Linked DNA regions of Homo sapiens. The protein of the gene in region 1 interacts with the protein of each later gene in a biochemical or structural test. Each region holds a gene or a part of one and is shown on either strand. Other genes may lie near its edges. The genes, in order: PINX1 and TERT.

Region 1 (3,500 bases):
CACTGAGCATGGCTAAGTGCAGGAAGTAGATCATGGAAACGACAATCGGCCTTTAGCACTGGGTAGTGACCCCTGCAGATCTGAGCAGCCTCAGCATCAAACGGAGAGACCATGTGGTCTGTACACACGATATTCCACTCCTAATCAGACGATTCTGTCGGCAGCTGTGATTGTCAGGGTCACGGGCGGTGTTGGAGGGGTATGCAACTATGATTGGGGTTAGCACAAGGGAGGCCTTGGTGGTAATGAAATAGTTCAGGATCTTCACTGAGATAATAATGGTTACACAATCCACAAATGTGATAAAGGGGCACAGAGCTGTATGAGCAGATGGTACCAATGCCAATTTCCTGGTTTCATCATGCTGTACTGTAGTTACGTAAGATGTAACCACTGGGGAAAACCAGATGAAGGGTACACAGAACCCCTTTACTATCTTTGCAACATCCTGTTCATCTATAAAAAGTTAAAGAAAAAACCCTCATGACTATTAATCAAGGGCTGCAGATGTTTCTTAGATATAAATACATTCAGATCATCCAGTTCAATAGAGAGACGAAAAAATACACAAGCAACACAACATCTATGCTCCAGATGCTCAAGCTCTTTCTTAATTCAGCCTCCAGCCAATAAGGAAGTCAAGTCGTTCTTCAGGCTGGCCTGGACACCTGGTCACATGCTTGTCAACCCCTAACAGCTCACCTCTGACTACAGGTAAGGTAAAGAAGTTTTGAAATTTAAACCATTATTTTCCACAAAATAGCAACAGCCAATCATTTTCCCACAAAGTTACGATACAGCATCAACCACTGGTGTCTCTGGTGAAGCTCAACAGAAGCTGCTAAGGCCTAACTAACCCCCTTCAATGTAGATTTTTTGTTAAATGAGAAAGAGTTCATTAACTTCGGCAGGACTGCTGTATTATCGGAGAAAGGCTGATTTTGGAATTGGACGGACACAGATTTAAAAGCCCACGTGTGCCATTTTGGAGCATTCTAACAATTCTCTCTGTGCCTCAGTTTCCTCACTGCTACAGAGGAGATACTGATATTTACATGACGGGATTGCTGTGAGGATGAAATGAGAAAAATCCAGCACAGGGTTTGGCACACAGGTGCTTAATAAAATTGGAATTCTACGATGGCAGTCAGGAGCTGTAGAAATTAAAATCAGTAGGCTTCCCTTATTGCAAGGGTGATGCTGTTACCCAAGCCAAGAACATGGTTAACGCCAACGTTCTGGAACTCTGGATGCTGAAGACAGATCAGCATCGGCACCTAACTAGAGCACCCACAGAGCTACTGCTACCTTAGTGGCCCGCACTACCACGGTTTCCAGGACTCTGGAGGGAGGTGACCTCCAGCAACACCTTGGCCTCTGCAATGCCAAATATAAATCCAGACCGACGGAGCTATGAGAGTCAAGCGAAGCAACAACATACAACATTCCCGCCAACTGAGGATGGGAGCCGAAAGAGGTTGTATTTTCAAACAAATCTGATCAAAGTCCTCCTGCCTTTGACTATAAGGGCTGTTGTAACTAACAAGGTTAAGGTTTCTTAGCAATAGTCTACTCAAGGAAGGTACCGGTATACCTCAATAAAAGCAAACTTAACATATGAACATCCACAAGGATGTCAAAGATAAATGTAGAGGTCATTTTGCTTTATAGAAAGATACTCTGTTTGTCTTAAATGTGATTACATTTAAATAGATTCTGTTTTCTGCACACATGCAGGCATGTCAAAAGGAAAATACTGCCTAGACGCGACCTCCTCAGTGTGGCACACAGGTCAGCAGCAGTATCACCTGGGGGCTCCTCGGATGGGGATGTACAGGCTCTCAGCCCCCGCCCAGGCTTCCTGAGTTGGAATCTGCAGTTTGACAGGGAAGACCTGTACACACGGCAGGACTTGAGGAGCTCTGTCCTCAGGGTTACTCACGACCCGGAAGCCAGAAGCTCTCAGTACAGCTGCATGGCAGGCTATCCCCGTGTTCTCAACCCTCGCTCCTTACTGAACGTCAGAATAACTGCTGCAACAATTGGGGAGGAATTAAAAAAAAATTTTTTTTAAATTTTTCTCCTTTTGTAATATAGATACCTGGACCCTGACCGAAGATTTAATTTAATCGGTCTTGGGCAGAACCCTGGCATTAGCATTTGTTTAAAGCTCATTAGGCAATGCCAGGACGACCTTGTTGAGAACTATGGCTACAGACGGAGAGCAGGGCCTGGTAGAAGACCACCTCACCAACAGGTAGGACCTAAATTTATCACTGGAAGAAAACACTGAACTGGAAGAGAGAGAGAGATGTGACTAATGGAAATCTCACACAAAACACGATGTTGCATCAAGGTTGATCATCTCTACACACACTGGACCAAAAGAGATTTTCCTGGGGCTAGCATTAGGGAACTGCTTTTGAAGCTCCTCAAACACAGGTGGATGTCTCACTTTAACATGACTTAGCTACCAAAGAGTCAAGTAACACCACACAGTGTTGAAAACCTCAAGGCACCCAACACCCAATAAATTCTCAAACAGAAATCTGCCAGAGGATCAGAAACCTCTGATCTCTTACAACTAAGAGCTTTCTGCACCAAACACATAAATTCTCTTAAAGTTCTACAAAAGCCCACAAGTAACATTTCCCTCCCTGATCTGTTCAACTGTACATTTTCATAGAGGGTGTCCGGGAGGGCAAAGGCTGGGGGTGGTGGGTGAGCAGCAGGCAGAAGAGAGGATCAACGTGCAGGGATGTGGAAACGCCAGTACAGAAGGCACGTGAGCCCCACGGGGCTGGGGAGATGGGGGTTATCTCAAGGTATGGGAGGGACGTGGAGTTGATACAAAGGCTCAGGGTGTGATCGTGGGGTGGGGGCAGCTGTTGGGCAGAGCAAAGGAGATGGAGTTCAAGAGGCGCGGGACTGGAATTCTAGTTCTTCCTGAGGACACGGAGACGACTGAGAGAGTCAAGGAAGAGGGGTTGGAGAGGAGGCTGGGATAAGCCAGAGGCCATGTCCTTGGTGAACAAGGAAGAGTGGCGTAGTCCAGGTCTCACGGTGAGCACTGAGGGCAGAGGTACAACCAGAAGCCAGCCTGTCTGACCATGGCTCTTTCCAGCAGCCCCTTGTGAAGGAGCAGCCGGCACGGCCGGATGTCAGAGCGGCTCCTCCCTAGTGACCACTGCCTATCCCGTGACTCAGCATAGTCCGCGCAGGCACCAAAGCCAGGTATCCTTTCCCAGCCTGCTGCTTCCATCTGCTGAGGGTGCAGGGGCAGACAGGGGCTAAAAGACCCAGGAATTCAGTCCCAATCTGCACAGGGAATCATCTAATGAGACTTCTAACCACTGGTAATTCTGGACTCCCTAAAAATTATTACTATTAAGAAACAAACCACCACCCTAGAAATAAAGATTTCTGTCAGTCTGGAAAAATGCCAGGAATCAATAAACCAAGTCTTCTTTTTTGTTCTATGGTCACCAAGGGCCCTGGCT
Region 2 (4,019 bases), on another chromosome or scaffold:
GACACCGCATATCCAGCTCACCGCACGGTCTGGCACCGTCTGGCGACCTCACTCCAGACCTGCACCATCCAGACACCGCACACCCAGCTCACCGCAGGGCCTGGTGACCTCACCCCAGACCTGCACCATCCAGACACCACACATCCAGCTCACAGCAGGGCCTGGCGACCTCACCCCGGACCTGCATCATCCGGACTCCATACCTCCAGCTCACCGAGGGCCTGGAGACCTCACCCCTGACCTGCACCATCCAGACACCACACATCCAGCTCACAGCAGGGCCTGGCGACCTCACCCCGGACCTGCATCATCCGGACTCCATACCTCCAGCTCACCGAGGGCCTGGAGACCTCACCCCTGACCTGCACCATCCAGACACCACACATCCAGCTCACAGCAGGGCCTGGCGACCTCATCCCAGACGTGCACCATCCGGACACTGCACATCCAGCTCACTGAGGGCCTGGCGACCTCATCCCGGACCTGCACCATCTGGTACAACAGCCATGGCCATGGGAAGCCCAGCAGGTCCAGGCCGAGATGGCCACGCACGGGACCTACACACGGGATCCCGCAGACAAAGCTCAAAAAATGTCAAATGTCCTGTGAGTGATGCTCCCACCAATAACACCCTAAAATGATGAGGTGTGGACATGCTGGGCTTCAGTAAAATCTATTATTACATTAATTTCACCTTTTCTTTTTTACTTTTTTAATGTGGCTACTAGAATTTTTTTTTTTTTTTTTTTTTTTGAGACAGAGTCTCGCTGTGTTGCCAGGCTGGAGTGCAGTGGTGCAATGTCGGCTCACTGCAACTTCCAACTCCCAGGTTCAAGCAATTCTCCTGCCTCAGCCTCCCGAGTAGCTGGGATTACAGGCACCCGCCACCACGCCCAGCTAATTTTTGTGTTTTTAGTACAGATGGGGTTTCATCATGTTGGCCAGGATGGTCTCGACCTCCTGACCTCGTGATCCACCCGCCTTGGCCTCCCAAAGTGCTGGGATTACAGGCGTGAGCCACCGCGCCCAGCCTAGAAATTTTAAAATTATCCACATGGCTCACGTCATGCTCCTGTTGGGCGACAACGGCTCGGAGCCTCATCCTTTGTCCTGGTTCCCAAGCAGAAGGGAGGAAGCAGACACTCCCCCGCCAGGCAGCACCGTCAGAGCTGGCGCCACACCGCAGGTTTGCGCGATTTCAAACTCGACACCGCGGAGCCACCAGACCCCGACATGCCTGGGGTTTTCCAGGCTGAACCCAGGCCGAGCGGACGTTGCTGTCACTCACTGGCTAAGGAACGCTGGCCACGTGGTGCTCCAGACACTCACGGGCCAAGATGACCGCCCTCCTCGTGAGTCTCCACATCTTCATCTGTGCATCATAAGCAGAGGTCCCCGGACGTCGCTAGATGCCATGGAGGCCAGCACAGGTAAAGCTGGGGTTTACCAGCAATAACAAGACAGAAGAACCACGCAAAGGACAAGGAAGGGGACCCCAGACGGCGGGCCTGAGACAGAAGACAGACGGGGAACAAAGGAGGAAAAGCAGGGCGGGGGCAAAGCTACAGAAACACTCAACACGGAAAACAATATTAATAATGCTTAGCTTGTGGGGGTGTCAAGATGCCTGAGATAGAACTAAGTCAGCAGGGAAAACAGCACACAGGCTGGGGGGTGGCCAGAGCTAAAATACACTAAGGGTCTTATTGCTCAGGACAAGGGTAGCAATGTTTCAGACTTCATTTTAAAAGATCAAGGTATGCCGGGCACGGTGGCTTGCACCTGTAATCCCAGCACTGTGGGAGGCCAAGGCGGGCAGATCACTTGAGGTCAGGAGTTTGAGACCAGCCTGGCCAACATGGTGAAAGCCTATCTCTACTAAAAATACAAAAATTAGCCAGGCGTGGTGGTGGGCGCCTGTAATCCCAGCTACTCATGAGGTTGAGGAATGAGAACTGCTTGAACCGAGGAGGCAGAGGTTGCAGTGAGCCGAGATTGTGCCATTACACTCCAGCCTGGGTGACAGAGTGAGACTGTCTCAATAAACAAAAGCAAACAACGACAATAAAAAGATCAGGGGGTAACACTAAGCAAAGAGAAATAAAAGCAAATGCCCAGTGACCAGGAGGCAACGAGAGGATCAACACACACTCGGCAGGAAACGCACATGGCAACCCAAGAGGTGGTGAGAAACAAGGGAACGAGGACATGCAACAGGCAAGTGGAGAATCAGAGTGCACCAGGCGGGTCTCTAGTGACAAAAAAATGAAAATAAATCAGGTTATCCAGTTAAACAACGACTGTCAGACTGGATTGGAAATTCACCTACATGCTGTTAACAGGACATACCCACACTATAAGAATATAAAAGTGTTGAAAATTAGGCCAGACATGGTGGCTCATGCCTGTAATTCAGCACTTTGGGAAGCCGAGGTAGATGGATCCCTTGAGTCCAAGAGTTTGAGACCAGCCTGGGCAACACAGCAAGACCCTGTCTCCAGAAAAAATTTAAAAATTAGCCAGGTGTAGCGGTGCGTGTCTGCAGTTCCAGCTATTCAGGAGGCTGAGGTGAGAGGACGGCTCAGGCCAGAAGGTAAAAGTTACACTGACCTGTGATCACACCACTGCACTCACCCTGGGCGACAGACCAAGACTCTGTCTCAAAAAAAAAAAATATATATATATATATATAAATTAAAGGCAGAAAACAGACACAGCAGGAAAATACTAATCAAAAGAAGCCCAGTGTGGCAGTACTAAGAGCAATTTAAAAAAAGAATTACTAGATTACTAGAGACATAGAAGTCTCCAAAAGATTCACTCATCAGGAAGATAAAAATTCTACCACGTGCATGCACCTAACAATGCCTCACATAAATGCTACCAAACGAGAAGAAATGAACAGACCCATCCCCCAGGTGAGGGACTATGGCCTCCTTCTTGGAATTTCATGCATCTAGAAGGAGACAGAAGCTTTGCACTGGACCTTAATAAGCTGGATATAGTGAACATGCATGCCCACTATTGACAGGATGTCAAATTTACAATGGACAGTTCTGGAAACCATGCACACACTAGATCACAAAGCAAGGCTCCGCAAACTTCAAATAATTGGTATTATACAGACCACTACACAACTGAGTTAGAAATCAATAATAAAATGATAACTTAAAATACTCTACGTATCTTGATACTCTACATATCTTGAACATAAACAGTGTTCAAATAACTCACTGCTCAAAGAAATCACAGAATAAGCTAAAGAATACTTAAAAGTCACTGATATCAAAATGATTTCACGTCAAAACACAGCGTGCACAAAGAAAAAAATCACAGAATAAGAATACTTAAAAGAAGTATTAACACTTTGAAGTATTTTAAGAACACTTGAAAGTGGCTGATGTTGAGATTACTTCACATCAAAACACAGGGTGCAGGTAAGGCAGCACTTAGAGGGAAAGGCATGACTAAACTAAGAAGCTAGAAAAGGAATGAAAGAATAAACCAAGAAAAAGCATACAATGGAGAGATAGAAACGTCAGAGGTAAATCAGTGAAATTCAAAACTAAGACCCAAGAGGGAAGTCTGACGAAGGCTGGCGGAGACACCGGCCCTCCACGTGGGTCTCAGAGCAGGAGACAGACAGAGACACTCCAACCTGTGGCTGGACGTCAATCCATGTGAGGGGGCGACTGGAGGCAGAGCCCAGCCTAAGCAATGAGCGGCAGGTGCCCAGAATAAGGTGACAAGCGTTGCCACCCACCCAAGGGGGCCAAGCAGAGGGGCAGCTTGGGAGAAAACAGGACAAGTGAGGGGGCTGGGGTGACTTGCTTTCCTTCAGGGCACAGAGAACCCTTTCTGGGATGTCTCCAGCAACACGTGGCAGCAGACACAGGCAGCCCAGAGTCCAGCCTCGGCATGAGACAAGCTGGGAGAGGAGTATTGGCAGCATGCATGTGGCGGGCACGTGGTGAGCAAGCCAGGCCCAACAGAGGCAAGCGGACCTGAAGCTGTGGCTG

Evidence for each region.
Region 2: the proteins of PINX1 (region 1) and TERT form a complex in vitro, tested with the Homo sapiens proteins (one study listed by BioGRID).

What each region holds. Positions count from the first base shown.
Region 1 is NC_000008.11:10,815,876-10,819,375, forward strand, and holds part of PINX1 (PIN2/TERF1-interacting telomerase inhibitor 1), read right to left. Parts: intron 1-3,500. UniProt on the Homo sapiens protein: Microtubule-binding protein essential for faithful chromosome segregation. Mediates TRF1 and TERT accumulation in nucleolus and enhances TRF1 binding to telomeres. Inhibits telomerase activity. May inhibit cell proliferation and act as tumor suppressor.
Region 2 is NC_000005.10:1,284,836-1,288,854, forward strand, and holds part of TERT (telomerase reverse transcriptase), read right to left. Parts: intron 1-4,019. UniProt on the Homo sapiens protein: Telomerase is a ribonucleoprotein enzyme essential for the replication of chromosome termini in most eukaryotes. Active in progenitor and cancer cells. Inactive, or very low activity, in normal somatic cells.